Linked DNA regions of Homo sapiens: regions 1, 2 and 3 are each linked to region 4. Evidence: fine-mapped expression QTL. A gene starts in region 4. Each other region holds a variant in brackets. All regions are shown on one strand. Distances are between the middles of the regions. Region 1 overlaps MCF2L (MCF.2 cell line derived transforming sequence like). Region 2 overlaps MCF2L (MCF.2 cell line derived transforming sequence like). Region 3 overlaps MCF2L (MCF.2 cell line derived transforming sequence like). Region 4 holds the start of MCF2L (MCF.2 cell line derived transforming sequence like).

Evidence for each region. PIP is the estimated chance that this variant, and not a neighbour inherited with it, causes the effect.
Region 1: its variant is the best candidate, but not a certain one, in a credible set for the expression of MCF2L in ovary (GTEx, PIP 0.69).
Region 2: its variant is the best candidate, but not a certain one, in a credible set for the expression of MCF2L in lung (TOPMed, PIP 0.85).
Region 3: its variant is the best candidate, but not a certain one, in a credible set for the expression of MCF2L in liver (GTEx, PIP 0.89).

The regions. Positions count from the first base shown.
Region 1 is chr13:113,076,635-113,084,002 of GRCh38, reverse strand. MCF2L (MCF.2 cell line derived transforming sequence like) reads right to left here. Exons shown (of 30, transcript NM_001112732.3): 13 at 6,792-6,951; 14 at 5,567-5,640; 15 at 5,264-5,337; 16 at 2,724-2,790; 17 at 1,461-1,576; 18 at 1-5. Among named protein-coding and RNA genes, the nearest start is that of F7, 25 kb to the left of the region's middle. The variant C/T (reference allele first, on the strand shown) is at 2,584.
Region 2 is chr13:113,084,776-113,092,143 of GRCh38, reverse strand. It overlaps MCF2L (MCF.2 cell line derived transforming sequence like), which reads right to left. Exons shown (of 30, transcript NM_001112732.3): 19 at 7,160-7,252; 20 at 6,966-7,058; 21 at 5,895-6,020; 22 at 4,688-4,909; 23 at 4,345-4,437; 24 at 3,739-3,817; 25 at 3,516-3,582; 26 at 2,416-2,534. Among named protein-coding and RNA genes, the nearest start is that of F7, 17 kb to the left of the region's middle. RefSeq lists an enhancer at 1,758-2,263. The variant G/T (reference allele first, on the strand shown) is at 4,607.
Region 3 is chr13:113,020,397-113,027,764 of GRCh38, reverse strand. MCF2L (MCF.2 cell line derived transforming sequence like) reads right to left here. Exons shown (of 30, transcript NM_001112732.3): 3 at 3,007-3,121. Among named protein-coding and RNA genes, the nearest start is that of MCF2L, 55 kb to the right of the region's middle. RefSeq lists enhancers at 1-460, 4,482-5,117, 5,118-5,752. The variant G/A (reference allele first, on the strand shown) is at 3,733.
Region 4 is chr13:112,964,969-112,972,336 of GRCh38, reverse strand. It overlaps MCF2L (MCF.2 cell line derived transforming sequence like), which reads right to left and starts at 3,123. Exons shown (of 30, transcript NM_001112732.3): 1 at 2,879-3,123. The coding sequence starts at 2,957. It overlaps MCF2L-AS1 (MCF2L antisense RNA 1), which reads left to right and starts at 3,699. Exons shown (of 1, transcript NR_034002.1): 1 at 3,699-4,853. RefSeq lists a silencer at 3,188-3,247 and an enhancer at 3,449-3,968.

The sequences.
Region 1 (7,368 bases), 110 kb before region 4:
ATATCCTAGACAAAGAAGGTTTTTAAGTAGTATGAAAGACAGGCCGAGTCACGTGGACCAGTGACAAGTGGATGGACGTCATTTTTCAGAAGCCTGTTACGCCTTGCTCTGGGCAATCTGCCCCGCATGACTTGGAGACGCCGCAGCCACGCCTGTCCTGAGCACCAAGCTCTCAGGCGCCAGCAGGTGCAGCCCCAGGCTGAGTCTCTTTATATTTCTGGCCTTGGCTGCACACAGAAGTTGGAGGGAGCTGCTTTTCCCTCAGCACACACACGGCTCACAGGGCCGCAGGCAAAGACAGAGATGGGACCTTTCAGGGCCCTGGAGGCGCCACCCCCATAACTGGCCGTGGGTCTGTGGGTTCTCTGCAGACACACCCTGAGCCCTGGCCCTAGGCAGCGCCGCCCCCAGGCTCCTGGGCTGTTTTCTGTTGCATCTGTCCCCTGGAGGAAGTCCGGCTGGAGGGGAAAACCGTCTGGGGGATGGATTTGGGGCATGAGCACAACAGCTGAAAGCTGTGGGGACCCCTGCGTGCAGGACTGGCTGAGACCCTGGGGGCCATGAGGACAGATACTAAGGGACACTAAGGTTCTGCCCAAGCTCCGTGGACGTGGAAGGCTCCTTGGTGGTCAACTGCAGACCTGCTGCCTCCTTGTAAGTGGCAGGTGAGGTGATGAGAGGGCAAGAAACAGGTGTCAGAACAACATCCCAAGCACTGGCGATTCCCATGGCCAGTGGGGCACGCTGGTCCCCAAGCACATGGCCGCATGGGAGCCACTCACATGGGTTCCTTCCAGGACACGCAGCGGGGGCTGTCCACTGCAGCCTCCCTGGCATTCTGCACTGCGTGTGCACCCTACACCTTCCCATGAGCTCCCCAAAACTGTGTTAAAGCAGCCAAACAGCTCAGAGGAGTGGAGGACAAGAGGCCGGACAGGCCACCTGCACTGGAGAGGCCACGGGTCGCTCGGGGGACAAGCAGCCCCCATGATGGGTAAGGAACGCCTAGTTTGCCGTCCTTTTCAAGAGCTTGGGAACAAAACAGGCCTTGCTATGTGGTATGGCCTTCGGTGACCCCCTAAAGGGCCGAATACACACCTGGGAGGGGGTTCCGGCTTCCACCTGCCCAGCAGGATGAGGAGGGGATGAGGGGCAGGCGGGTCCCATTTCCTGCACCACAAAACAGGGCGCACTCGGGCTCAGAGCCCTCTCCTCACGGCTGGCGGCTCACTTACAACTTGGCTGCCTAGACACAGGCCACCAGGTACGGTGCCACGTGGGCGCTCAGAGATGGCCCCATGTACCCACACTCAAGCCTGTGCCTCTGTGAGTCCACCCCTTGGGCGCCCCTCCCTAGCCAGGCATGGCCTGGCCTCCACCCCCATTCCAGCCCCCTGAAGCCAGCACCATTAGCTGCAAGAGATCACGGGTGCGTGCCTGTGTCGGGGGGAAGGGCCCACCTGTTGTGGAAGTGATAGATTTCCTCCATGTTTCCAAACAAAACATCCTTCTTGTTGTGAAGGCCTGTTGACAGGAGGTGAGCCATCAGTGGGTTATCCATCTCCGCGGCGTAGCCCTGCAGGGAGAGCGCAGAGGTCGGCGGGGGTCCTGGGCCTGATGCTGTGGGGGGGCAGGTGGGCCAGGGATGCCGGCTCATCTGTGGGCCAGGCCAGCCCTTCATCTTTATTCTCGGGTGATTTCTAAGTTACCGGGACAGGCATCCATCAAAGCAAAAGCATTATGAACAGCACCAATTTGGGGGAATGGGGTGGAGGTTCTACCCTTCTCCCTTTTAACCTTTTATGATTCAGGTGTAACTGAAACAGAGGGCACAAATCTTATGTCTACACTCGGGTGACCTGCTCACACTCAGTAAATCAGACACTCGACTACACTCAGGTGACCACCACCTGTGCACACTCGGTGACTCAGACACCCGTCTACATTTGGGTGACCACCACCTGTGCACACTCGCTGTCTACACTCAGGTGGTCACCACCTGTGCACACTCGCTGTCTACACTCAGGTGATCACATGTGCACACTCGCTGTCTACACTCAGGTGACCACATGTGCACACTCAGTGAATCAGACACCTGTCAACACTCAGTTGACCACCACCTGTGCACACTCGGTGAATCAGACACCCGTCTACACTTGGGTGACCACCACCTCTGAACACTCGGTGATTCGGACACCCGTCTACACTCAAGTGACCACCACCTGTGCACACTCGCTGTCTACACTCAGGTGATCACTACCTGTGCACACTGGGTGAATGAGATGCCTGTCTATACTCAGGTGACCACCACTCACATCAAGCTCACCCAGGCAACAGCCCACTGCCAAGGTCACCTCTAATCTGCCTCCCACCTCCGACGAGTTTTGCTTGCCCTGGAGTGCCCCGTGCCGGGAATCGCAGGCACCCTGTGGCCTGTGTTGGTGACGATGTGTGTGTGGTTTGTGCATCTGTTGTGTGTCAGCTCCTCTTTCTTATCACTACACTTGTCCCCTGTACGGACCCCCCTGAGCTGCCTGGTCTGTGTCTTGTTGATAGGCCCCCAGGGGCTCCCCGTCTGGGGCC[C/T]GACCAGGCTGCTGTGGGCGCTCTCTCACATGCATTTGGTGGACAGCAGGCTGCTCCGAGCAGCAGTTGTCAGAGGAAGCCCCACCAGCTGGCCCAGGGGAGTCCCCGTGGCAGTCGGCCCTCCCCGAGTCCAGCCTCACCTCCAGGACGCACAGCAGCTCCTCCACGTAGGCCCGTTCTGTGTCCAGGAGCTCGCTCATCACGTGCCTGGTGGCAGGTCATGTGGAGAGCAAAAAAGGTTAGCACTGGGAGAGCAGGAATGGTCTGCTCCACAGTCTCACAGGTGCCACCTAGAATGATGGCCTGCCCAGCAGGAGGGGACTGGCGGCGACCCAAAGCCCACAGGCTGGACGCTCCTCGGGGTTCCCCTCCCAGCTCGCGGCCTCAGACCCTGCAGACGGCGGCTGAAGCCTCCCTGGTTCCCAGACTGGCCGGCAGTGTCTTGCCCCTGGCCCGGCACACACCGCCTGGTAGGAGGGATTCCCAGACTCGCCTCCTGGGCTTTTGGGTCCCACCTGTGCAAAATGAGCTGAGTTCCTCACGCTCATGGGCAAGTCATCCTACTCCTAGGACCCATCCCTAGAATCCACCCGAGTCTCTTCTGCCAAGAAGACGCCCGCCTGCTGCCCGGCCTCCCTGAGCCTTCCTCGTGGTGGGTATCTGTGTGGCCCCTCGTGGCCAGGGCGGGGGTCTGGCATCGCCGGAGCTGCCCCCTGCCCACGCCCTCACACACAGCAGGTGGGCAGTGGTGGTCCGGGGAGTGACCCTGCACCCACCACACTGGATCCAGAAGGGGAGGGTGCACAAGCTGGCTGCGCAGGTCTTGCTGTGGGTGTGAGCACCTTTCAGCAGCCTACGGCCCTGCCTGCTTATGTGATGCACAGAAACTGGAGCCAGGGGGCTGGTCCTGGGTTGAGGTTGTTCAGCAAGCTTGTTCTAAGACAGCTGTCGGCCCGCAGAGGCCCCGGACTCGGCACAGGGGAGAGGACTGGGGAGCAAGAGGGCTCTGGACTCCCTCTCACAACCCAGGAACTGCCAGCCGAGGGCCACTCCTTCTGCGTCTCAGGGCCGAGCACTTGCTGCTCCTCCCTGCGGACGCCCCTCTGCCTAGACCCTCCTCCGTATGGACACTCCTCTGCCTGGACCCTCCTCCGTACAGACACTCCTCTGCCTGGACCCTCCTCCATACGAACACTCTCCTGCCTGGACCCTCCTCTGTGCGGATGCCCCCCTGCCTGGACCCTCTTCCGTATGGACTCTCCTCTGCCTGGACCCTCCTCCATTCAGACGTTCCTCTGCCTGGACTCTCCTCGGTATGGACACTCCTCTGCCTGGACTCTCCTCCATACGAACACTCTCCTGCCTGGACCCTCCTCTGTGCGGATGCCCCCCTGCCTGGACCCTCTTCCGTATGGACTCTCCTCTGCCTGGACCCTCCTCCATTCAGACGTTCCTCTGCCTGGACTCTCCTCGGTATGGACACTCCTCTGCCTGGACTCTCCTCCATACGAACACTCCCCTGCCTGGACCCTCCTCTGTGCGGATGCCCCTCTGCCTGGACCCTCTTCCGTATGGACTCTCCTCTGCCTGGACCCTCCTCCATTCAGACATTCCTCTGCCTGGACCCTCCTCCGTGCAGACGCCCCTCTGCTTGGACCCTCCTCCGTGTGGACAATCCTCTGCCTGGACGCTTCTTGGCAAGCCCCTCTTCCTTCCCATCCTGTTTCACCAGCTTCCATCAGAAGCCGGAAGTGACAGACTCAGCTTTCACACCAAGCTCAGTTTCCTGTAATTCCCAATTTTGCGCCGTCTCCCAACCCTGCAGGGTCACACTGGCGCTGCCTGCGGACACCTGCTTGTCAACACATCAGGAAGAGCCTTTTCTTCTTTCCTGATTTTGGAGTTTTGATGGTGAAAGGGGGAGACGTGGTTCCAAGCGTCTCTTGCAAACATATTCAGTGCAAATACTAAAAACGGAGACAGTGCAAAGTGTGAAGCCAGTGGCGGGTGCCTGGTCGGTGTGTGGCCTCCTCCTCTTCCTCGAGGGCCTCTGGGAGGGAGCCGCGTGTGCCTCATGGGTGTTTGGCTCCTTCCCAGTTTTGCTCTGGGGACCTGCATTCCCTGGCCCTGCACCAGTGAGGTCTTTCTTTCTTAAAGGTGAAGGAGGAAAGAGAACTGCTTTTGTTTGCACAACACTCCCTGAGTTTGAGGGTCCAGGAATCCCAGGGGAAAAGGAGGGCTGGAGACGATGCCCTCCCACACACCAGCTGCCTGGCACCACTGCCTGCCACACTGAGCCCTGAGCAGCTGGTGACTGCTGCTGCAGCTGGTGCTGGTTGGGGCCTTTGAGTGGTGTCTCCTGTGAATGGCAGTGGCGGGTGGAGGCTCTTGCTGGGGCGAAGATGCCCCTTCACTGTTGCATTCAGCCATCGCCCTCTCTTCCCTCCTGAATCCCGAGTGGTGTGTGTGCGGCGTGTGTGTGCTTCACGCGGTGGGGACCAGGACACACGCTCGAGCCACGGCAGGCCCTCTGGGTATCGGTTGGTGCAAAAGTAAGAACCACAATGACTTCTGCACCAGCCTTCTATCTGTGAGGCATCTGCTCGAGTGCCTGACGGCATCTGGTGGTTCAGGCTGCGGTCGGAGGGCCCCTGTGAGGACAGAAGGGCAGCGCACCCACCTGCGCAGGATGGCCAGGCTTTCCTCCTCCTCCCCCGCTGAGCCGCGGCCCTGCCGGCTCTCACTCATCTCACTCTGGGGAGAAAAACAGCGTCAGGTCTGAAAGGCGGGACGGAACCTCAAGGGCCAACTCTCAAGGCCAGAGCCCACCAGTTCCCGTATGGGGACAGGGCTGAATTCCCACGATGGGGAGCTGGCCAGGTAGCTGGGCAGTGCCCGGGAGGGGGGGCCACACGGAGAACCAGGCCCAGCGTGAACCAAGGAGGGGGGTGTGGATGGCGGGGTTGTCTTGGGCAAGCCTCACCTTGGCCCTCCGGTAGGGCCCTCTCCGGAGCGCACCGCCCTCGGAGCTGGAGTTCTCAGAGCCTCGCCGAATGCCTGTTGGGAAGAAGGGGAGCGGGGCATGAAGTCCCCTCTGACCCTCTGGAGAGGGGAAGTGCACCCAGCGGGAAAAGGCCCCGAGGAGAGGGTAGGACTCGGCCTCTGAGGCCACAGGTGGTGGCGTGGGCAGGACTTGGCCTCTGAGGCCACAGGGGGTGGCATGGGCAGGACTTGGCCTCTGGGGCCACAGGTGGTGGCGTGGGCAGGACTTGGCCTCTGAGGCCACAGGTGGTGGCGTGGGCAGGACTTGGCCTCTGAGGCCACAGGTGGTGGCGTGGGCAGGACTTGGCCTTTGAGGCCACAGGTGGTGGTGCGGGAAGGGGGAGGACGGTGGGGCCTCACTGCCCTGAGTCACCCCACGTTCCCACAGCCCACGGGGACACAGCGCCTGTGGGCTCCGACCTGGGAGAGCTCCCAACAGGCAGAAAATAAGGTCGCCTGGGACCCAGCACAGGAAGGCAAGAGCCTGGCCCCCGGGGCCCCTGAGATTGACAGCTGACTTTCGCCAAAGCTGGGGCAGCAGCTCGCCTGGTGGGTTCGTGTGTGAGAAACCAGCAAGGATGGGAAGAGGGTTCGTTTTGAGACACAGAGGTGGCGGGAAAGTCTCTGGGAAATGGCGCCGTGCCTGGCTCGGCATAGAGGGCGGGTTTGGGACCAGCAATGCGCGCCGGACTGAGGTGCGCGGACGTGGCTCTTCAGGGCTCCTGGAGCCCAGGGTCTGGGCCGTGTGTGAGGAATGTTGTTTGGCAATAGCACCGGGAAAGGACAGACCGTGGAGAGGCTGGAGCTGGGAAGGCCGGAGATGGTTCCTCTGTGGGAGCTCTGTGTTTCCAGTTTTGGGCCACGTGGGCTTCACTGAGACCACTGAACCCTGCCAGCCTCATGGAAAAGCAGCCACAACGATGCCTACAAGATGTGCGTGGCACAGGATGGGCGTGGCCGGGTCCTGACAAAACTCCATTTATAAACATGGGTGAGGGGTGGCGGGAACCGGCCCTCAGGCCCTGAACTGGGGCCCGGAGGTGGAAGGGGAGGAGGCGTGTGGAGACAGTTTTCGCAGGTGGCTGCCTCAGATGTACCAAGCTCTCAACGCCCGGGGCTCCCCCGAGGGTCCCACAGCACCCGGGGCACCGGGCGGCCACACAGACCTGGGGAGGGGCAGGGCGACTTTGCCAGTGCCTCGGGTCTGGGGGCCACCGGCTGCACGGGCCGCGTCTGCCTGGCCGCCAGCTTCTTCAGGCTGGCCTGCCTGCGGTGGAACACCTCCTCCATGCTTGCCTGCTTCTGGAAGACCTTTCGCACGTGCTCCTGAAACCGCATGCTCAGTAAGGTGCCTTGCACATGTTGGTGTCATCACTAAAAATACACAGTCAGGCGCAGAACGTGCCGGGGCACGCCCAACCCCCGCTTTAAATGTTCTCCATGCGGGGTCTGTCAGCGCAGCGCAGCTGTGTCCAGCCCTGGCCACTACGGACGGAGAGGGGGATGCAGCCCCCACACGGGACGGGGCCCCGGCCTCGGGAAAGGGCAGCTCCATGCGAGGGAGGGGCCTGCAGCCTTCCCCAGGCATGTGGAGGGCTCAGGAGGAGCCTGGTCTCAAGGGCATCACCAGGTCCCAGGGCCAGGCCCTTCCTGAAGAACACACCCATGCCACAAAGTCTGCCAGCGGAGGCGGGATGGCCACCTCGCAGGGTTGGCGTGGAAATAATTTCTGTGTTGAAAGGA
Region 2 (7,368 bases), 120 kb before region 4:
AGGGTTTGACAGACAAGAATAGCCTCTCCCAGGAGACTGTCAACAGGGAAATGACTCCCTTCTCCCAAGCACTCCTGGGGCCTCGAAGCAGCAAGCCGGGCGCCCACCCACTTGCAGGCAGGACAGTCAGTAACGCCGGGCCAGCTCCCTGCCTCTGAACTCATGCCCAGGGTGGCCACAGCTTCTGCCTGGTTCTGTGAGGCTCGCTGTGTCATGTGAGGAGGCTGTGGAGGCGGGCGGAATGGGAAGGCTGGTTCTGCTTACACCCCTGGGAACCTTTGCAAATTTTTGAAAACTCAAGATTGCAAACATGAGCCCCGTCCCTGCACTTGAAGGTCCTCAACAGGCCAGGGGAGGTCTCTGGGCTTCACAGGGCAGTTTTCACCCTGAGAATATAAGGGAGGCAGGAAACGAGAAGGGCCAGGTTCCACAGGGAGCTCAGCCTCGTCGGCCCGGGAAAGGAGGGTCCGGGTCGGACAGGGAGCTCGGCCTCATTGGCCCCGGGAAAGGAGGGTCCGGGTCGGCCCTGCCAGTTGCTATGCTCTGTGTTCCCAGCAGGAAGTGTCGGGGCAAACTGTGCCACAGGGAAGGGCAGGGAACAGGGTGCCCTATAGCCGACAGCAGCCACTGGGCAGTGAGACCCCACCCAGCTCCACCCAGCACGGCCAGGTGACCAGCGCAGCAGCCGTGGCCAGCAGCCACCGACGGGGTGGGCAGTTCCGCAGGCTCCAGATAGACCTGCTGTGAGGAGTTGGCTGAGAGGCGTGCTGTCCTCGAGGACCTGTCACCAGAGCATCACACATTGAACACAACCGCGTGTCTGCCTCCGCAGCATAAAGACCCACGAGAGCATCCCCCTTAGGTGGCCTTGACGGCCACCTGACAGCCAGCTGGGCCGCGCTTCCTGCCAACGCAGAGTGGGTGCCGTGCCCGAGGGTGCCACTCTACCTCGCACACCAAAGGGAGTCGGGTCGCTCTTTACTTCATGCCGCTTGGCTTTTTTGTCAGGACTGGTAGGAGAAGCTGCAAGAGGAGGAGGAGGCAGAAATACAACCGGAGAGAGAGTGTGAAGGACGGAGGGAGGCGGCGAGGAGGCTGACCCGCGCTCGTGCTGGAAGGGGACACCGACGTTGTGGCCCCTTTCCACCGATGAAAAAGGAGCTTCTGTGAGCAAAACACAGGGAGCCGAGGGGCCGCGCAGTGAAGGAGGGGCCGGGAGGGCATGGGAGTGGGGGCTGCGGCACTCAGAGGCGTCCTTTCGGGGCCCGTCTCTAGGGACGTTTTCTTAGTTCTGCGCTAGCAGAGTTTGCAGCACCAGAATCTGTTGTTTGTTTGTTTGTTTCAAGTCTCAGGCCAACTTAAAAGCATTTTATAAATTGGAAAACACTCCTACTTCTCTGGAAAGAGCCCTTGTCCACGCTGGCCTTCAGGGCTTCCCAGAAGAGCCGCCTGCACGCCAGGGCCGGCTTCCAGGGCCTCCTGGGCCCATTTCCCCGCCATGTATTTCCCATCATGGAGCTCTCGCAGGTGAGCAGGGCATTAGACGTCTCCGTCTCAAGGGTCCCATCAGCCCTGTTCACTAGTGGATGCCCCAGAAGATGGCTGAGCGGCCTCTGCCACCAGGCGGAGCAGAGACACGCAGCCAGCAAGGTCAGCACCCTGCAGGGAACTCACCTGAGAAGGCGGGAGAAGGCGGGGGTGGGGGGCAGGGAGAGGAAGGAGGGGGCCTGGAAAGCCAAGGACAGCTCCGTTTCTGAGCAAGCCTCCATTTGAAAAGCTCGCCTTCATTTTCCCGAAGGAAAGCCACCTCTAAATAACTCTGGTGTCTGTGCGCGAGACACAGCATCAGGGAACACGTGATTGGGTGGAAAGAAACGCTTTTGCGTGGCCGCCCTTGTGACGAAGGAGGCACGAATGGTCACACACGATGCATGACAGACGCCACCACGGTGAGGGTGGGTTTGGGGCAGGCACTACTTTTACCTTTCTGACCTTTGAGGTTAGCAAAACCCTGCAGGGTAAAGCGCTTTCTGGAAAGCGCAGAGCTTTCTGAGGCAGAGCTAGTGACCGTGTCATCTATGAAGGAAGAGAAAGAAACTATGCAGAGGGCATCGCAACCCGATGCGGAGGCGGGTCCGGCTGTCGCAGGGAGGGCCCAAGGCGGCTCCGGGTTGCACGCTCGGCCGAGGCTCCTTCTGGGGCTGGCCTTGCTGATGCAGGGGTGCAGAGCAATGGAGAGGGAGGGGCTCTTCTGTGGGGTCCTAGGGCTCTGTTAAGAGGGGAGCAAGGGGCCCTGAATGCTCTGCAAAGCTTCTTCACACTGCAGGAAGCGCAGGTTTCTCGGATGCAGTGAGCACTCCGTGAGCAGCTCCGTGTGAGGCCTCCGTGTGAGGCCCGGTCCCTGCACATACCCACCTTTGCCCTTTTCGGGGGGCTTTGTCAGTGGCGCTGAGCTGACGTATCCCTCCAGGCTTAGGGGGTCTGTTTTCCTTTCTTCCAGCTTCTTGATGTTCCTTGAGTTTCCTCTTGAGGGACTGATGACATCAGACAAATCAAAAAGGAAATAGTGTGTTGCCTGGTTAGTCTTTCAGAACGCCCTGAGGACCTGAGGCATTCAGATATCTCTGAGCTCCCGGCCTGATCCTAAAGCAGCATCTCCTGCACGTGTTTCTAAGTTAAACCCGGACGGACTGGATGAGAGCAGACGCCCACCCTCCTGCTTCTGAGGGGCCACACACTTCTAAGTTAAACCCGGACGGGCTGGATGAGAGCAGACGCCCACCCTCCTGCTTCTGAGGGGCCACACACTTCTAAGTTAAACCCAGACGGGCTGGATGAGAGCAGATGCCCACCCTCCTGCTTCTGAGGGGCCACACACTTCTAAGTTAAACCCGGACGGGCTGGATGAGAACAGACGCCCACCCTACTTGCTCTGAAGTATGAGGCTTTTTTTTTCGGGGGGCGGGGGGGGGGGCGGGGGAGTGTTTCTTTTTTAAAACTACTGTTCTACGGATTATTTATTTAGGCCATATCCTGTTCCATGAATGATTAAAGGTAGCTTATATAAGAAACAGGATAAAGTGAAAAAAATAAGTGGATGAACAAAATAAAGAAAAAACAAGGGCAGAAGAGACACGACGAAGCCACGGTCAGGGTCGGAGTCTGAAACGTGCCCACGTGTGTGCTGGGCCATCAGTGCCGGCTCCCAGCTGAGCCCCGACTGTCTGAGGAGTGCTGGGGCGTGGCTGTGATCTGGACAGGCCATGTGCGCACTGCCGTGCTGTGGAACAGCCCACCCCGGGAAGAGCTGGAGAGGGACTGGGCATTGTCGGAGGCACACATCTGTGAAGTACACCCTCTGGGACGGACCCGTCAGCACATAAACACCAGGGGCCTCAAGGAAAACCCCAATAACCACAGGGTCCCACTGACAGAGGCCGAGGACCCTGGCGTGCAAATGGCCTGCTCGGGACTGCTCCAGAAACGCAGGCCTGCGGCAGCGTGTCCATTCTCACCTGGTGCTGGTCGGGGCCGGCAGGGGCAGGCTCTGTGACTGCTCCAGCGCCCGGTGCTGGCTGGCTTCTGCGAGGAGGGAGCAGACAAACCACGTGAACGAGCGTCTTTACTTCAACGCCGAGGCACCTTGCGCATGGGGGGACTGTGCGGTTGCTCTGAACATAGGTAAAAATGCACCTGGAGCGGAAGCTACGGGAAACGATCGCTTGAAGACAGCCTCACCTCTACAAGCCTGCAGCTGGCTGGTCAGCACTTTCCGAATTTCATTCACCCACGCGGCTTTAATCTCAGGAGTTGGCGCCTGTTTCCCCAAAAGAAACGCCAGGAGGTGAGTACTCAGGCCCCCGAGGAAACACGCTTTGGTTTCACTCTCGGAACATCCAAAGATAATCTTAGGAGTCAAAGGTCAGGTGGCTGCGTGTGAGGGGAGAGGAGGAAAGCACTGTGGGTGGCCCCGCATTGCGGGACCCTCTGTGCCCCATGCACGGGACTGACTGAAGAACTGTGCCTGGCACCCAGGGCACGGCACCCTCCCCACCGTGAGAATCGGCCCTGCGTGCCAGATGCACACTTGCACCGTCCAGGGACACATGAGCTCCCCTGGGGAGGGAGAGCCCGTTTCCTCGCAGCACCCCGTCTGATGTGTACTTTTCCCCACATTTCATTCTGGGTCCAGCTCAGGGTGAAGACAGCCCAGGGCAGCATCCTGAAGTGTACAGCGGCTGCTCCTGGGCTCGATGCAACTTCATGGCAGATCCTTGCACTGGTTCCCATGAGAAACCATTCGTGGCAATGTGTAAGAGGCCAGGGGTAGGGTGGGTGGCCCACCTGGACGATGTAGACCTCCTCGCGCGCGTTGTACCAGATCTCGAACTTCTTAGCATCTCCCTTCACGTTCTCCGTAATGCCAACGGCAGCCATCTGCGAGCAGAGAGTGGAGATGGGGTTCGCGTGCACAGTGAACCCACTGCCTTGTTTTTAAAAGGTGTTGGTGCAGGCACGAAATGATGGAAATACTTTGGGGGTGAGGGCTAAGAATGGCAGAATACCCCACCCCTACACCTAAGGCTGAGAGCTGGGTGTCAGCGTG[G/T]CCACCTCAGACCGAGTTACAGACTTCCCCCGTCGGGGTCTGTGGCCAGGAGCGTGCTGCTGCAGACCCGGCCTCACTTACGTTTAAGGACTGCTTGTAGCTGTAGGAGGGAGCTTTCTCATACCCCTCCCCATTCTCCTCCCTCTTCTTGCAGAAGAGCACTGCCTTCTCGTGCAGGAACAGGTGCCGCTGCATGGGCTTGAACCTGGCCAGCTCCTTCACCTTGGTGTGGCCCCTCTTGTGGTCGGTCCAGACGCTGAACGAGCCCTGCATCAGCAGCTTGCCCAGGTCGCCGAGATTCCCCTAAATGTGCGACAGCAGGGCTGTGTTCAGGACGGGATGGGCCTGGGGCCATGGACGCGCATCGCTGAGTGAAAGCAGCCACTCTGCAAAGCCCACCCACGGTGGGATTCCAGCTGCAGGGCGTCCCAGGAAAGGCAAGCTCGTGGAGACTGACAGGTCAGCAGGTGCCAGGGGCTGGGGGAGGAGGGATGGACTGGCGGGGCACATGGGCTTCTAGGACAGTGAAGCTGCTCTGTGTGATGCTCTAGCGCTGGGTGTAGGATGTTACACGCCTGTCCAAACCGCAGAATGCACAGCACCCAGAGTGAGCTCCAAGGGGAACGGCCCTCAGTCACTAATCAGCATCAGCGCTAGTTCACCATGTGTGGCAGGTGTGGCACCCATGCTAAATGTCAACACTAGGGGAAGCCTCAGGGCCTCTGATTTATACTCAATTATCTCACAAACCAAAAATTGCTGCAATAAATCAACTCTATTAGTTAAAAAAAAAACACCTGAGAATGAGTGCTGGGTGGACATAAAGACGGACAAAAGATGAATAAGCTGTGACCTGATGTGGGGCTCTACGGGGAAAGTGACATCTGCCTTCTGGGGCCACTTGCTCTAAGTCACCAGCCTGCAAATCGCAGCCCAGAAAACAGAAGTCACGTCTGCTCCGAGCCACGCCTCCTCCCCAGGAGAAGACAAGGAGTGAGGAGGTCTGAGCTGCGTTCCTGCTGGAGATGCGTGCCCTCCAAGCAAGGGACGCTTCCTGATTTTCTCCACGTCCCAGAGAGCCCAGTGGGGTCTGTGGACCCGGCTGTGGGGTCTGTGGACCCGGCTGTGGGGCCTGGGAGTGGGCTTATCTAGGGACCACCCCAGACCTCCTGCCCAGAACCTGCACATTCACACCAAAGCGAGGGGCGTGTGCAGGGAGGCCGCCAAGTTGCTGGGCTGGTGTATTCCACGGAGGCGGCGGGGAAGACCGGGCATCTGGGCGCCTTACGTCATAGCCGGTGATAGCGATGAGGTGCATGGAGTCGTTCACGGCCTTCAGGATGCCCAGGATGGAGCTCAGCGCCTCCTGCAGGTCCTCAGCCCCCTCGCAGTTCCTGCTGTATTTCAGCATTTCCTGAGGGGCATGGGGTGAGGCAACCGCGTCGGGACACGGAGAGCCCTGGCTCCCCTGGAACAGACCCCTCAGGAGCTTGGCACGAGGTAGGGATGCTGCTCACCCTCCCCTGGTCTGTGGGGAGCTGCCCTGCCTGCCCTCCTGCAGCTGGGACAGACTGAGTGGTGCTGCAGATGGGGCAGCACCCCTGCCAGGTGCAGACCCTTGGCACCTGCTCCCCGGGGAGCTCCCTCCTGCCACCCGGATGCCAGGTGCAAACCCCTCGCACCTGCTCCCCGGGGAGCTCCCTCCTGCCACCCGGATGCCAGGTGCAAACCCCTCGCACCTGCTCCCCGGGGAGCTCCCTCCTGCCACCCTGATGCCAGGTGCAAACCCCTCGCACCTGCTCCCCGGGGAGCTCCCTCCTGCCACCCTGATGCCAGGTGCAAACCCCTCGCACCTGCTCCCCGGGGAGCTCCCTCCTGCCACCCTGATGCCAGGTGCAAACCCCTCGCACCTGCTCCCTGGGGAGTTTCCTCTCGCCACCCTAACCCTGGCCAAAGGCATGGAGTTGCAGTTTCCTGCCTGAAGGTTAGAGGGACCCACATGGCAAACTCATAGCTGGAATCCCCAGTCTAGGCCGCCCCACGTCCCTGCTGTGTGCCAGATAATCCGGGCACGGCTCCACCCTGGAGGGACGGGTCAGCACATCACACAGAATCCCATGTGGGCTGGGCTGTGTGCCAACCCATGGGGACGGGGACTCGTCTGCTCACCTGCGTCCTCAGACCCCTAACAGTGGCGCACAGTAGGACCTCGAAAGGCATCCCAGCCTCAGCACAGGCTCGGAAGAGGTGCCCTTGGCCTGGGAGGGGCAGGGCGCGATGGGGACGGGGCCCCAGGGCGGCACAGACACCTGGCCAGCAGGTGCTGGGGAGGCCGGGCCACGGTCACCGCGGAGCCCACCTTGAGCAGCAGCTGGTACTTGGTGATCCTCTGCACTGGCTTCAGCAGGTAGGAGTCCAGGCTCAGCTTGTGGTCCAGCTTTCTCTGGCATTCCTGGAACCAACCCAGAGCCTTTGGTTTGCACAATTTTCATTATTCCTCAGGAGTCGGCTAGGAAAGGGAGTAACGTTCTAAAGGAAGGTCCGGGGACAAACCTGGAAAAACGGGCAGTCGGAGCACTGTCTCCACAGGCTCTCAGAGCGGGGCTTGTTCTGACAGTACTTCTCATAGATCTGGAAATCTTCCATCTGCACCGAGGGACAGGCACCGCATCACGCAGTGAGGGATGGGCAGCGCATCACGCGGTGAGGGACGGGCACCGCATTACGCGGTGAGGGACGGGCACCGCATCACGCAGCGTCTT
Region 3 (7,368 bases), 55 kb before region 4:
ATAACATGGGCTTAATAACTGCCTTCCTGCCACAGTGTGGCTGAGAACCAGGGAGGAATGTGTGGAAACCGTCTGCAGCATCGCAGCCTTGCCCCACCAAGCCGGTCCCATCAGCCCCTCAGGGAGCTCGGCCGCTCGGCCCGAGACCCAGCCCCTCCTCCGTGCACTCAGCTCAGCCAGCAGAGCCTGGCGCATAGGGGGTGCAAGATTCTCACAACAGACAAGAGACTGAGGTCAAAACCACAAACCCAACACACAGTGATTTGGGGCTACCAGGACACCGCCATGTCCAGGGCTTTGACCATAGTCAGTCACGAGCCCCCTTCTTTCTGCCCACCAAGACGTCCTGCCCCCGAAAGGCCCACCGGTGAGGCTCCCTGCTCCTCCAGCTCCCACCTCAACCCGCCAAGTGGACAGAGGTGCCCACCGCTCTCCCTCTCCTTGAGGCATGACTGCAGAGGCTGGCTGCTGCCAGCTGGTGGTTATGTGATATTTATCAGGGGATCAATGTGCTGCTTTCCAGGTCAGGCCGACGGGCTGAGCTCTCAGTTACCAGGCCCAGTGCGCTGTTGTCTTTAAAGACTGAAGAATGAAGAACCTTCACGGTAATGGCCACGGCTGCACTTTCACGCTGATGGTTAAACATCTCCTCTGTGTTTTGCCACCTTATGTAATGTGCGGGATACAGATGCCATATTTAAGGATATTTCTGTTTTTACTTGGTGTGTGTTCACTATACCCCAAATGGAAGCAGCAACTACACTGTCTGGTGTGAGGCTGACATTCTCAGCATCTTCCTGGAGGCTGGGACGAGCACATCAGATGAGAGACCCCCGCGGCACCCCTCCCAAGTCAGCCTGCAGCTCACCGGCCTGATGCTGCTCTCCTGCCCGCCGCTGGGGAGACACAGAACTGGGCTCCCTACCTTTTCAGAGGACAGGGACCCAGCTCTGTCTGGAACAAAACAAAAAACTGCAGCCTGAGGGAACCATTTTTGTTAACTGGATTTTCTGGTACCTCTGGGGTCAGTTCTTTCCTGGAAAGGGCAGGAGGCGGCCACGCCCCCAGGGCCTGACCACGACACAGAGAGGCCACGTGGACGGGCTCTGCTCCCATGAGCATCAGGTCCCGTGCAGATGGGCTCCTCGGCATTAAGAACACAGAAGCCCTCGCACCGCAGAACTCTGCTGATCGAACAGGCATGCGCAGTGATGGTATACGAGGGAGCACAGCAGCGCTCAGGCTAAGTCAGATCCCGACTGCTGAGCAACTGGGCCTCCAGGTGGGCCTCCGAGCTCCAGGAAAAAACGGCAGCTCAGGAGCGAAAAAGCTGGATTCGGACCCCAGATCAGATCTGAGGCAGACTCCTGAGCTCCTCGGAACCATGATGCTGACAAAGCTCTAACCCCTCAGCAAAGCCACGGGGAACTCAATGATGGCTCCCAGAGACCCTAATTCATCCTGCAGTCACGGGGACCCCACCATGGTGGAACCTCACAGAGACTCTGCCCCGACCCACAGTCACGGGGACCCCAGCCTGGTGGAACCTCACAGAGACTCTGCCCCGACCCACAGTCACGGGGACCCCACCATGGTGGAACCTCACAGAGACTCTGCCCCGACCCACAGTCACGGGGACCCCACCATGATGAAACCTCACAGAGACTCTGCCCCGACCCACAGTCACGGGGACCGCATGATGGGGAAATCTCACAGGGACTCTGCCCCGACCCACAGTCACGGGGACCCCACCATGATGAAACCTCACGGAGACTCTGCCCCGACCCACAGTCACGGGGACCCCATGACGGGGAAATCTCACAGGGACTCTGCCCCGACCCACAGTCACGGGGACCCCACAATGGGGAAACCTCACAGGGACTCTGCCCCGACCCACAGTCACGGGGACCCCACCATGATGAAACCTCACAGAGACTCTGCCCCGACCCACAGTCACGGGGACCCCATGACAGGGAAATCTCACAGGGACTCTGCCTCATCCCATAGTTGCAGGGACCCCACCCTGGTGAAATCTCACAGGGACTCTGCCCCGACCCACAGTCACGGGGACCCCATGACAGGGAAATCTCACAGGGACTCTGCCTCATCCCATAGTTGCAGGGACCCCACAATGGGGAAACCTCACAGGGACTCTGCCCCGACCCACAGTCACGGGGACCCCACCATGATGAAACCTCCCAGAGACTCTGCCCCAACCCACAGTCACGGGGACCCCACGATGATGAAACCTCACAGAGACTCTGCCCCGACCCACAGTCACGGGGACCCCACCATGATGAAACCTCACAGAGACTCTGCCCCGACCCACAGTCACGGGGACCCCACCATGATGAAACCTCACAGAGACTCTGCCCCGACCCACAGTCACGGGGACCCCACCATGACGAAACCTCACAGAGACTCTGCCCCGACCCACAGTCACGGGGACCCCACCATGATGAAACCTCACGGAGACTCTGCCCTGACCCACAGTCACGGGGACCCCATGACGGGGAAATCTCACAGGGACTCTGCCCCGACCCACAGTCACGGGGACCCCACAATGGGGAAACCTCACAGGGACTCTGCCCTGACCCACAGTCACGGGGACCGCATGATGGGGAAATCTCACAGGGACTCTGCCTCATCCCATAGTTGCAGGGACCCCACCCTGGTGAAATCTCACAGGGACTCTGCCCCGACCCACAGTCACGGGGACCCCACCATGATGAAACCTCACAGAGATTCTGCCCCAACCCACAGTCACGGGGACCCCACCATGATGAAACCTCACAGAGACTCTGCCCTGACCCACAGTCACGGGGACCGCATGATGGGGAAATCTCACAGGGACTCTGCCCCGACCCACAGTCACGGGGACCCCATGACAGGGAAATCTCACAGGGACTCTGCCTCATCCCATAGTTGCAGGGACCCCACCCTGGTGAAATCTCACAGGGACTCTGCCCCAAACCACAATGTCTGCCGGGCTCTGGGTGCACGTACCTGGGGATGCTGGTGAGGTAGGTCATGACATTCTGGAACTCCTTGTCCGGAATCTCGCTGAAGGCCGGGTAGTCAGGGAAGGTGATAACCGGGCTTCCGTCCTGCCCCCGCCCACCTGGGGAGAGACCAGAGGCAGACCCTTAGCCGAGGGCTCCATGCCCCCGGGGGTTCCACAGATGTCGGCCCGTTTTCATCAGCACCCAGTATTTCAGTTAAAACTGAGGCATGTTCTTCATCGTTGCATAATTTTTATTTGAAAGAAATGTGTGCTGCTTGAAGAAAATATTTGGAAAGTACACAAAAGTGATGTGAATTTAGACAATCACTCGTTATTTTGGCCACCATGGGACAGCTACCGTGACAATTCAACATGCTTCTTTCCAAGCCTTTTTCTATGGGCTTTTTTAACCTTGTTGAGGTGATACTGCATAGAGAAGCTTGTCTCCTGCCTCCTTCCTGACACTGAGAACAAACCGCTTCCATGCTTTTAAACAATGTAACCATTATTTTAAATATTGCATAATATTCCATATATGCATGTGCACTAATAACCTGCCTAACTGTACTGTTTGTGGGTATCGTCTAGCTTCTCCGACATTGGCGCCTTTTAAGCAATTCAATTCCAAAGAGCTCCATTCGAACACTGACTTTGGAGTCACACAGGCTGGGCTCCAGGTCTGCCTGCTGGAGCCGGCCACTGACCCTGCCACACTGCCTTGGCCGGAC[G/A]GAGTCCATTTCCCTCCCCCGAGCCTGGGTCTGGCCTTGCGATCTGTTTTGCCCACAGGACTCAGCGGAAGTGAGCTTGGGACTCAGAACACTGCAGCTGCCCTCTCATGCCCTGTAGTCATTGGGCAGGTGGTCCCACGACCCTGCATCCACCTGCTCTGAGGAGGCCAGTACCCAGGGTTGAGGGTGGACTTTGTGAAAGGGCAGGGAGGTGGAGGTGCGGGACTGCAGCCCCCAGGACCTTCCAGCCCAGCCCCCATGAGGACACAGCTGAGCAGAGGACACAGTCAGTGCCCCGTGCGTGGAGTGAAGAACCACCTGGCTGAGCCCTTTTGGAACTTCTGAGCCACTAAATGAAGAATAAATCTGTAAAATAGGGCTTTTCAAGCTAACTAAGTTTAGGGTAGCTTTTTATGGAGAACAGATAATGGTGGGTTCGCCGCCCCTCATCCACGTCCTCACTGAGAAGACCCAGGGTGCACACAGCCTCCGACAACTGCAGCTTTGTCTCGTAACAGCGACAGTCCCCCGCCGCCTTGCGCCCCCCACAGCCACTGTCTCCAGCTTCCGGAACTTCTGCTTCTGGGTCTTGGCCAAGCCCAGCCACGCCAGGCAGGGCGGCTTTACCATCCAGTGATCCCGGGACGCTGGGCCCCCGAGGCTCCCTGTGGGCGTCTCCTCAGTACAGGGCTCCGTGGCCTCCTCCCGAGTCCTTGTCGGCACCCCTCAATGGGACATGACTCATTATCTGATACAATTGTTCTCACTTCGGCCAGGACGTCACACAAGCATATCTTTTCTCCCTCGCTCCTTCCTAACCTCCTTTGAGGGCTCATGCCTTGAGCCCATCCTGGCTGCCGAGTCTCTTAGAGGGCTGAGCCGAGGGGCGTCCACACACCGTGACGGCCCCCCTTCACCTGGGACAGCTCAGTCCCCGCAATGCTGCATTCTAAGGAAGCCCCCGAAGGGGAAGGCGGCTGCAGGGTCTGGCTTCATTGTGCTCTGATGACTTCTATCCTCCGAACTCTCCCAGCCCTCGAGGGCTCTTGACCTCTGCCCCCGTCTCTGGTGGCACATAATGCCCCATGCAGTGCTCAATAGAACGTGCCTGTCACTCACTCACAAACCTTTCATCATTGTTAATTCGCACTTCCTCTCGGAAAATTCCTCAGATCCCAATGATAAGAGGCCCTGGAGTGAACACTGCAGCCCTGTGTCCTCCTGTGCGAGTACGACAAGCCTCCCCTCAGCCGCCGCCGCGGTGGGGGCTCAAAGCCCCCTGGGATGTGGCTCACGCACGTCTCAGCTTCACGCAGCACCTACCACAATGATCAGGAACTCGTGGCAACTTTTCAGTCGCCATTAAAGGTAAGAGTGTTCTGCCGGGACAAGCCGAGGCAAGCGGCACGCCCCAGCTACGAGGTGGATTGTGGAAACGGCCGCAGCCTGCGCCTGCCTTTCCTTTCCCTGAAACGGGGCCTGGGGGGAACGTTCAGGGGCCAGAAGCTTCCAGCACCGCCCAGAAGCCTATGTGTGTGGAGTGACGCCGACGGCAGCTGGGGGCGGACCCTGCCTGTGTGTGAGACCCCCTGCGTCCCTGTGCAAATGGGCATGGGCCACGGCATGAGGACCCCTGGCCGGCGGGGGTGGGTGGGAGGGAGAAGCTGCTCCTTGGGGTACACTGGCTGTGGAGGGCCCAGCTAGGAAGAGGAGCGGATGCAACAAGATCCCCTCATGCCCAAACGTGGAGGCAGCCTGGGAGCTTGGAGTGGACGGTGGACACAACGTGGAGGCAGCCTGGGAGCTTGGAGTGGATGGTGGACACAGAGGTGGAGAGTGGCTCCCTCTCAGCACTGGCTGGCCCACCCACAGTGTGGAGGTGGCATCTGGGAGCTGCTGCCTCACTGGAACCACAGAGACCGGGGACCCCCAGAGGCCAGCCTGAGCCACAGGGTCGAGGGTGCAGTCAGCAGGGCAGCCTTGGGGCAGGAGCTAGCCACAGGAAGGCCTGGAGCCTCCAGCTGCCCAGGGGAGAGGATGGGGGCCAGGTGACCCGGAGCTGAAATCGCACGGGGGCCTGGCCTGGGCCGCACAGCCTCGTTCAGTTGGTAGCTGGTGCTGGTCTCAGGCTGCTGCTACCCTGGGTATCTCTGAACTCTCTGTGCTCCACCACAGCCTCAATGCAAAGCAAAGACCCTGTTCTTTCTTCCCAAGTCAGGAGTGGAAATCCCAGTCTGTCCACTGAGACTGAAAAGCAGGCGCCAAAGCTCCCAGTACCTGCAGGTTATGAGGCAGCAAAACACCGCTGGACGCGGAGCTGGGGGCACAGCCCCTCTCTGGAGAAACCCTCCCCACCAAGGTGGGCAGTGCCAGGACCCGGGGCCAATGGCACCAAGAACAGGCTCTACTTCTGTGTCTACACCCGGCCTAGTAACTGGAGGCGGACTGAACGCCGCAGAGGACAGAGGGCTCCGAAGCTCCTCTGTGGTTCAGAACAGCACCCTGTCCACACAGCACCAGGGGCAGCCTCCGGTCCCCACCCACGTCCAAAAACCACTGTCCTGGCTGAGACCTGTCACACCTGCATGTGAACTCTCGCACCCAAGCAACTGGGCCTACATCCACTCGCTAGGGGCAGAAGGCAGATGCAACTCCCTCTCATCCCCATCACCAGAAAGAAGTGTGGTTCCTACGGGATCTGCTTTAGTGTGAGATACACACTCAGTTTAATACACACACAGCTACACACAGCTACCTATACACACATACATGTACATATACACACATACAGTTACACACACAGCTACTTATAAACACACACATATGTACACAGCTATACACAGATACATAGCTGCACATACAGCTAGACACACACCTACACACACATGTATACACAGCTGCACACATATGCATGTGGATGTGTAGGTATGTATATGTACATATATGTACAAACATACACACCTATATATACACACATGGATATACACACACAGCTACACGCACATACACAGCTACCATACAGATACACAGCTACACATACACACACATACACATCTACAAGTACACACATATACACATACACAGCTACACATGCACATGCATACACACTACACATACACACACATACACACATCTACACATACACACATCTACACATACACACATATACACACTACACATACATGCAAACATACATAGCTACACATTCACACGCGCACACACTATACATACACACATCTACACATACACACAGCTACACATATACACTGTTATGGACTGGATGTCTGTCTTCCCCTGAATTCATGTGTTGAAATGCTGACCCCCACGGGGACAGTGCTGGGAGGTGGGGCTTGTGGGAGGGGAGGAGGCCGTGGGAGTGGGGCTCCCGTGAATGGGATTCTGTGGGCTTGCTCTGCTCGCCTGGCCACATGAGGACAGCGAGAAGGCTGCAGTCTGTAAATCAGGAAGTGAGCCCTCACCAGGCAGCACATCTGCCGGTGCCTTCATCCGGGACTTCCTGCCCCAGAACCAAGAGAAATAAACTGTGGCTTAAACCACTCAGTCTAGGGGACTTTGTCACAGCAAGCAGCCTGAGTTGAGACACACAGGTAGATACACACACGCACACGCGTCCTG
Region 4 (7,368 bases):
ATCATCATCCATCCATCCATCCATCCACCCACCCACACATCCATTCATCCACCCCTACATTCATCCACCCACCCATCCATCCACCCACCCACCCATCTACCCATTCATCCATCCATCCACTCATTTATCCATGCATTATCCATCTATCATCATCTGTCTATGACAAGAGTTAGTATTAGGTCAACTAATGGAAAAGGTGGGGCTAGATTTAAAGATTCTTCTACCACAGTAGTTCCCCAAGTTTGATTCCTGAAGAACTTCATCAAGAACTTAAGAAATGTCAATTATCAGACCCTACCCCAGACTTCCTGAATCAGAAACTCTGAGGGTGGGCCCAGCAGCCTGTGCTTTAACAAGCCCCCAAGGTGACGCATGTACATGCTGTAGTTGGAGGACCACTGTTCTGTTTCATCGAATGCTTAAATCAACTAGATCCATAGCATTGCTCCCTCGAATGTCTTCTACCTTTTCACCAATGACTAAAATTCCAAAGAGAAAACCAAAACAGACGAAAATGAGCCCTATCACATAGAAGGGGGGCCAGGGGGAAGTTGCCACTGGAAAGTGCCCCTGGCCTTGTTACTGAAGATCAGGTTCAGAAAAGTATATAAAATGTCAATTCTCAAGGTCAAAGGCTACAGATTCACAGACCATATGGACAGCACACATTATCCTCCTTTACATGCAGATTAGCCTAGCTAATGAAGGTTCTAGGTGACAGAAGAAATGCATAAATCTGAAATTAAAACACAGCAGCATGTCCTGGACAGCAGCAAAGATAAAATGCCTGTGGGTTGGGGGTGAATCTACAGAGGGTGAAGCTCTGCACAGCTGAATGAGGCAGCTGCTCTAAGGCCAGCCGCTGTACGCAATCCCTCAGCTGTGACCTAGCCCCGCCACTGCCCTGAGGACCTACACCAGCCGCCACATCAGTGTCCTGTTGCCATCAGCTTTTACCTGGCACGGATCCTAGCATGACCCCAGAAGGAGAAGCAGCTCCATGACCTCCCGCTGAAGAGTGTTTGGCTGCAGGTGGGGAACTCTCCTGAGGAAGTGCTTGGAATTTAAACCCGAGGTGGGGATCAGGTTTACCTTGACCTTCACCCCTACCAGAGAATGTGCACCACATACCCGTACACTCTGTGGTAGCATCATGTCAATACTGCATCATAAACCCCCTCATGATGGTTTTACAGCCTTCAACCTAATAACTTGCCTCCGCTGAGCAGTACCTCACACAGCGTGAGCAGAAAATGGGTTTGTGCTGAAGGAAGAGGCCAGTGTTAATGGGTGGTAAGTGGAGTATGATGCAGGGTCACCTCCCCTAACTAAACGCTACAGGGTGCTCATAACCGAGGATATCTGGTAAGCTGGACTTGAAAGTCCTGGTGAAGCATGCAATTATCGGTAATGCAGATGTGTGGGAGGACGCACATCTCACTGCCTGTTCCAGATGAGACGATGGCCCACACCGAGCGCCCGGCTCGCACGACATTCAGTGAGCAGACAGTGTCACTGCTGCTCTTCTGAGATAGCCTTTTTCCAATTAAAAATGCGCACATGTCTCTTGGAGCTCATGAAGAAACCCCAATCCCTAAAAACCTGGGGAATGACATCAGCCTCTGGAGCGGTTCCCACTCTGTGACTCTGACACCGAACGGCACGCAGAGGCATGCAGAGCAAGGGGGGCTTTCTCCTCCACCCCCACAGCCGATCGGAAGCCTCCCTGTGAACCTGGCATCCACGCAGCCCTTCACCATACTCAAACCCTGCAAACCCTGCACGGAAAAGCTCCACTCAAGCTTCAGAAAAAGAGCTGATTCTCTAAGAATCAGGGAGCAGACGGCATGAAAATGGTTTTGTTTTCTTTCGACCCACATACAATAAACCCAGCAGCTTTGATCATAAAAGCCCCCATTAAAAACATCTTGATTAGACCATCCCATACGATGGTGCTTATGCTGATTTAATCACTGGTTCACTCTCAGAATCCATCGGGGTGGGCAGAGAAAGAGAACCACACCCAAACCAAGCAACTGACATTTTAATCTCCCAGGCAAGTACTAGTTAGACAACTAGTAATGGCATATATGACATAACATATGGCAACATCAGGCAAAACACTTGGCAACTTACTTTTAATGATATATCATTATTTCCTCTTCATTTCAAGGAAAACGAGTTAAGGATGCCTCTCCCTTCTGCATAACACAGCCTGAGAACTCAGATGCGACCGCCTGAAAGCCACGGCCAGATGCAAGCTGTCAGCCCAGTCTCTGCTTACACCTAAAAGAATCGATCTGAACTACTCTTCAAAGCTTATTTGAAGTAATATTTCGATTAATACTGAAAATGAACGTCCAGTCCACTCTTTACCCATACCGTCTCAAACATCTGTCTTAGGTTTAAATTGCATTTAATGAAGAAAAGAACCACCTGATTAGTCCAGGTTTTTTCATCCTCAAAACGAGCTTCCAGGTAGCTTCACCATCCCTACCCCTGGCTCTGAAACCCCAAGCTCTGAAAGCCCTTGGCTCAGATCATTCTCCATTCGCAATGCATTCTCCATTGCGAGGGCTGCGGACAGGCAGGTTGATGGGCAGACTTCAGACACACAAATGGCTCCGCATGCAGACCCAGCAACCCTGAGAGAGCCAGTGTCACCAACGTGCAGTCATTTTGACTATCCCGGGCAGCATACGATCGCCGACAGCCTCTGAAAACACACCAGCTGCCAACCAGTGCCCCCCATGTCACAGCTACCACGGCTAGAAAGGAACACGAGGGCGGCTTACAAAAATCAGACGCATTTCCCCACATTTCAGCCCATGATGTCAAGCTTAAGCACAGATCACTGACGGCCAGCAGCTCCTCCTACCCGTGTGCTTGGAAACCGCATTTAATCTCTGCACCATTTCTTCCAAGGCCATCTCTTCAGTCCTCAGCCAAAACCTCATCCTCCGACACAACAAAAATGATCCTGGCAGATCCGCTTCCTCCGCACGGGGGGCGCCTGCGGGTGGGGCCGTGCGAGTGCGGAGGGGGCGCGGCGGAGGCGGGGAGGGGGCCACGGCAGCGCTTTCAGCCTCCAGCCGCCGCCTCCCTGCCCAGGATTGGTTCCGCGCCACCGGGAGGGGGGCGCGCGCTGCGCCGCGGGGGGCGGGGGGCGGCTCGGCGGAAGCGGAAGCGGCGCGCGCCCGCCCCGGTGTGTCACCACCGCGGGTCACCTGGGAGTCCTGTGAGTGCACCGCCGGGGTCACCTGGGAGCCCCGCGTGTCACCGCCGCGGTCGTCGGGGAGCCCCGGGGCTCACCAACGAGGTCACCTGGGAGCCCCGCGGGTCACCGCCGCGGTCACCTGGAAGTGTCACCTGTGTCACTAGGTCACCTAGTGTATCACACAGGTCACCTAGAAATTCGTGTCACCGCCAAGGTCACCTAGAAATTCGTGTCACCGCCGAGGTCCCCTGGGAGCCCCGCGGGTGCCGCACAAGTGCCCCCGCCCTTCCCCCCGGTTCCGGGTCTCCACGCCCTCCTGGTTTGCGGGCAGCCGCGAAGCCGCGAGTGGACCGAGCGAGTGCAGCTGCCTCCGCGGGGCCGCGCCTGGCCGCCGCCTCCCTTTACCTCCGGCCGCCCCGTGGCAGGTGTAGAAGCTGCAGAGGCCGCAGCAGCCCAGCGCGCCCCTTCCGTGTGGCCGCATGCCACCCGCGCCGCGCCCAGGTAAGCAGGTCCGTGGGTCGCTGGGTCCATGCGTGGGTCCGTGGCTGGCCGGGGATGGACCAGCCCCTCCCCGCAGGGGCATCGCCTGCCCAAGGACGCAGGACCCAGTGAGGGAAGCGCGCGCTGCAGGCACGGGGCTCTCCACCCTCGCCATGGTTGGCACCAAGCCACACTGTGCACTCGACACACGCAGCGTCCTGGCTGCCACCTGCAGATTCCAGCTCGTGTCTATGCAGGGCCATGGCCGCCATCACAGGGCCATATGCAAGAAACTCTCTGAGCTCTCCTCGCCCAAAACCGCAGCTATCCTTTTGTGGTTTGGTATTATAGGTAACATGCCCTTCCTTAAAGAAACAGTATTTCAGGCCTGTAGTCCCAGCTACTCCGGAGGCCGAGGCAGAAGCTGAGGCAGAAGCAGGAGGATCATTTGAGCCCAGAAGTTTGAGCCTGGGCAATGTAGCAAGACCCCCCCCCCCACCTCACTCCCCAATCAGTTAAAAGAGAGAGAGAGAGAGAGAGAATTCCAGCAGGAAGAAGTACACATTTCCACGAATGGTTTGGGAATTCAAGCATCATATGGCTGAGGTTTGAACTACAGCTCATGCCAATAACATGTGCACATGCGCCAGCATTCCAGCGTCCAACAGAGCATGCGTGCACCATTCCAGCATCCGGCAACAATGCACCAGCATTCCAGCGTCCAACAGAGCATCCGTGTACCATTCCGGCATTTGGCAACAATGCACCAGCATTCCAGAGTCCAACAGGGCATGCGTGCACCATTCCAGCATCCGGCAACAATGCACCAGCATTCCAGCGTCCAACAGAGCGTGCGTGCACCATTCCAGCATCCGGCAACAATGCACCAGCATTCCAGCGTCCAAAAGAGCATCCGGCAACATCCCGGTGTCCAGTGGCACATGTGCACCTGGACGTTCCAGTGTGGTGAGCTTTCAGGCACGGAGCAAGGCCAAAGGGATAAAAAGATGAAGGTGACGCAGTACTCCCCCTTATAGTGCCTACAGGCCTTATAGGCCAGACAGATCTGGAAATAAATAATTCATAATAAAAAATAATTACAGAATAAGAGGCATAATAACCAGATAGAAAGTATTGAATAAATCTGTAAGAAATGGCTGCTTTGTTTTTGTTTTTGTTTAACATGAGAAACGTATTGAGTATCAGCAGTTTCACTTGGTTCTACAGAATCTCTTTGGAGACCAGTGAAAGGAGAACTCTGGAAAGGCCTCAGAGTGGATGGGAGCCTCTCCCTCTGTGGACAAGCGTTCCCTGGGCTGCCCAGGGTGCCTACGGCGGCACAATTGCTACCTCCTGTCTACACATGGTCTGCAAAAAGTGCCCTCAAATGGGTCTGCTCCTCTCATTCCCTGTCAGTTCAGGGAACCTTCACCACTCCCCATCCCCCACCGCCCCCCCACCCCAACCCTGCCCCTCCAGCTTCAGGGAAAGCCTGTCATCAGGCAGAAGGGTCCTGAAATGCAGGCCCTGCCCTTTCCACTAGTCTAAGGCACAACACCCTCCCTGGTCCTCAGCCCACACGGCCCTAGGCCACACTCCCTCTGAGCACCTGCCCTCTTCTCCCGGCCGCTCTCCTGGCATGCAGGTGCCCTCCAGCCTGCCCAGCCTTGGGCTGCGTCAGGATCTACCGAGGACTTGTTAAGCTCACACAGCTGGGCTCTGATGGCTCCTTGCTGATCCAGGAGGTCTGGGATGGGGCCCGAGGATGTGCATTTCTAGCAAAATTTCCTGGGATGTTGAATGTGCTGGTCCACACTTTGAGAAACACTGCTGAAATCTGTTGCATCTTAAAAGCAAGATGAAAGGAAAGGGCCACACCCTCTGGCCTGTCCCGCTTCTCCGATCTCCCTCTTCACCCCTTGGGCATCTCCACACATGCTATTGGCTTCTTTCCTCAACCCTGTGCCATCCACTCTGTCCCCTGGCCAATATCCTCTGGCTGGCACCATGTCATGTTGGGGCACCAGGGTGGAGACCCTTGGTCTCTGTGGTCATTGGCTTTATTACTTGTCAACTTGGCTGGGCCACCGTGCCCAGATATTGGGTCAAATGCTAGGTTAGATGTCTCTGTGAAGGTATGTTTAGATGAGATTGACACTTATATCAGTAGACTTTGAGTAAGGTGTGTGACATAACGTGGGTGGGCCTCACCCAATCTATCAAGGGGCTTGAGAGAAAAAGACAGAGGTTCCCTGAGGAAGAGGGAGCTCTGCTCCCAGACAGCCTGGACTGCAACCCAACTCTCCCCAGTCCCCAGCTGCCCCTGGACCTTCCAACACCCACAATTTCAGGAGCTGATTTGTTCAGCTAAGTCTCTCTCTAGCTCTGTCTAGTCTTTATTCTGCCTTAAATTATAGCACAGATGATGCCATCTTTCCATAAACATCATTTAATACTTGCCTAAAGAACGATTGTCACCATTACACCTGGCATTAGGGAGCACTAGGCGCTCCAGGTACCTGCCAGAGTGCTCCCCATGCTGTAAACTATTGGTCTTTACAGAGAGCTGGGAGAAGGCACTGTTTTTCGCGTTTTACAGAATATGCAGAGAGGTTCAGCGACTTGCCCCAGGCCACACAGAGGCACAAAGATGCAGACCTGTGGTGTCTGCATCGGGGACGCCTGTAGTGTCGTGAGGGGAATGGCATCCACAGAGTTCCCGACAGGTAGACCCAGGACACTTAGGTAAGGTCCCAAGCCGTGTGTCCCAAGGGATGGGCTTCTTTCCATCCCTGGCTCGGCCTCTCTCCCGGGAACCAGAGGCGCCCCAGGAGGGAGGCTGAAGGTAAAGCGACACCTGGATACCAAACATCCTCATGGCGACCTTTCTGGATGATCAGCCACAAAGCGGAGGTGAGAAATGGGAGCTGGAGCAGGCAGGGCCAGGCTCCCAGAGCCAACCCCGAGGCTAGGGGAGCAGGGCTATGGAGTGGCACAGTGGCCCCGGCCACAGAAGGGCAGGCATAGGTGTTTCCTGCACAGCCTCACTCCATGTCTTGGGAGGGGTATCAGAGAGGGTAGAGACTGGAAAAGGACTGTGAGGAAATTCACAAGCTCATTGTGACTGGGAGAGCCCCGCGGGACAACACCCAGCATGTCAGGGATGCACTGGAGCCGTGGCCCCAGAAATCTGGAAACGAACCCTCGATTCCGGACAACCAGGGCTGGCTCTGAGGTGCAGCACTGAGCAAGGCTGGTGACTCCTGCGTGCCCAGAGCTCATGCTGCAGCGGAGGTGACATGGCACCTGGGTATGTGACAGCCTCCATGTGGTGACGGGAGGGCACCTGCTGGCACCTCCCCCTCCGGGGCCAGTGTGACGTGTGAACAGGTCCCTGTGTCCCAGCAGCAAGCAGGTCCTGGTCCACACACGGACGACTGAAGGACTGCACTTCTGAAGTGGGGGACAGGGAGGGGAGGGGCAGGAGAGGAAGGAAGAGGAGGAGCTGCTGGACTTCTGACTTTTTTTATGGCTTTGCCCAGCAAGGAAGTCTGGAATTCACATTAACATAAACTATAAACGCAGAATCAGTTGATGAGGACAGTTAGTGAGGAGATGGTCTTTTGGGGATAAAATCTGGCAGGATTGCTGACCTGGACTCTGTCATCTAA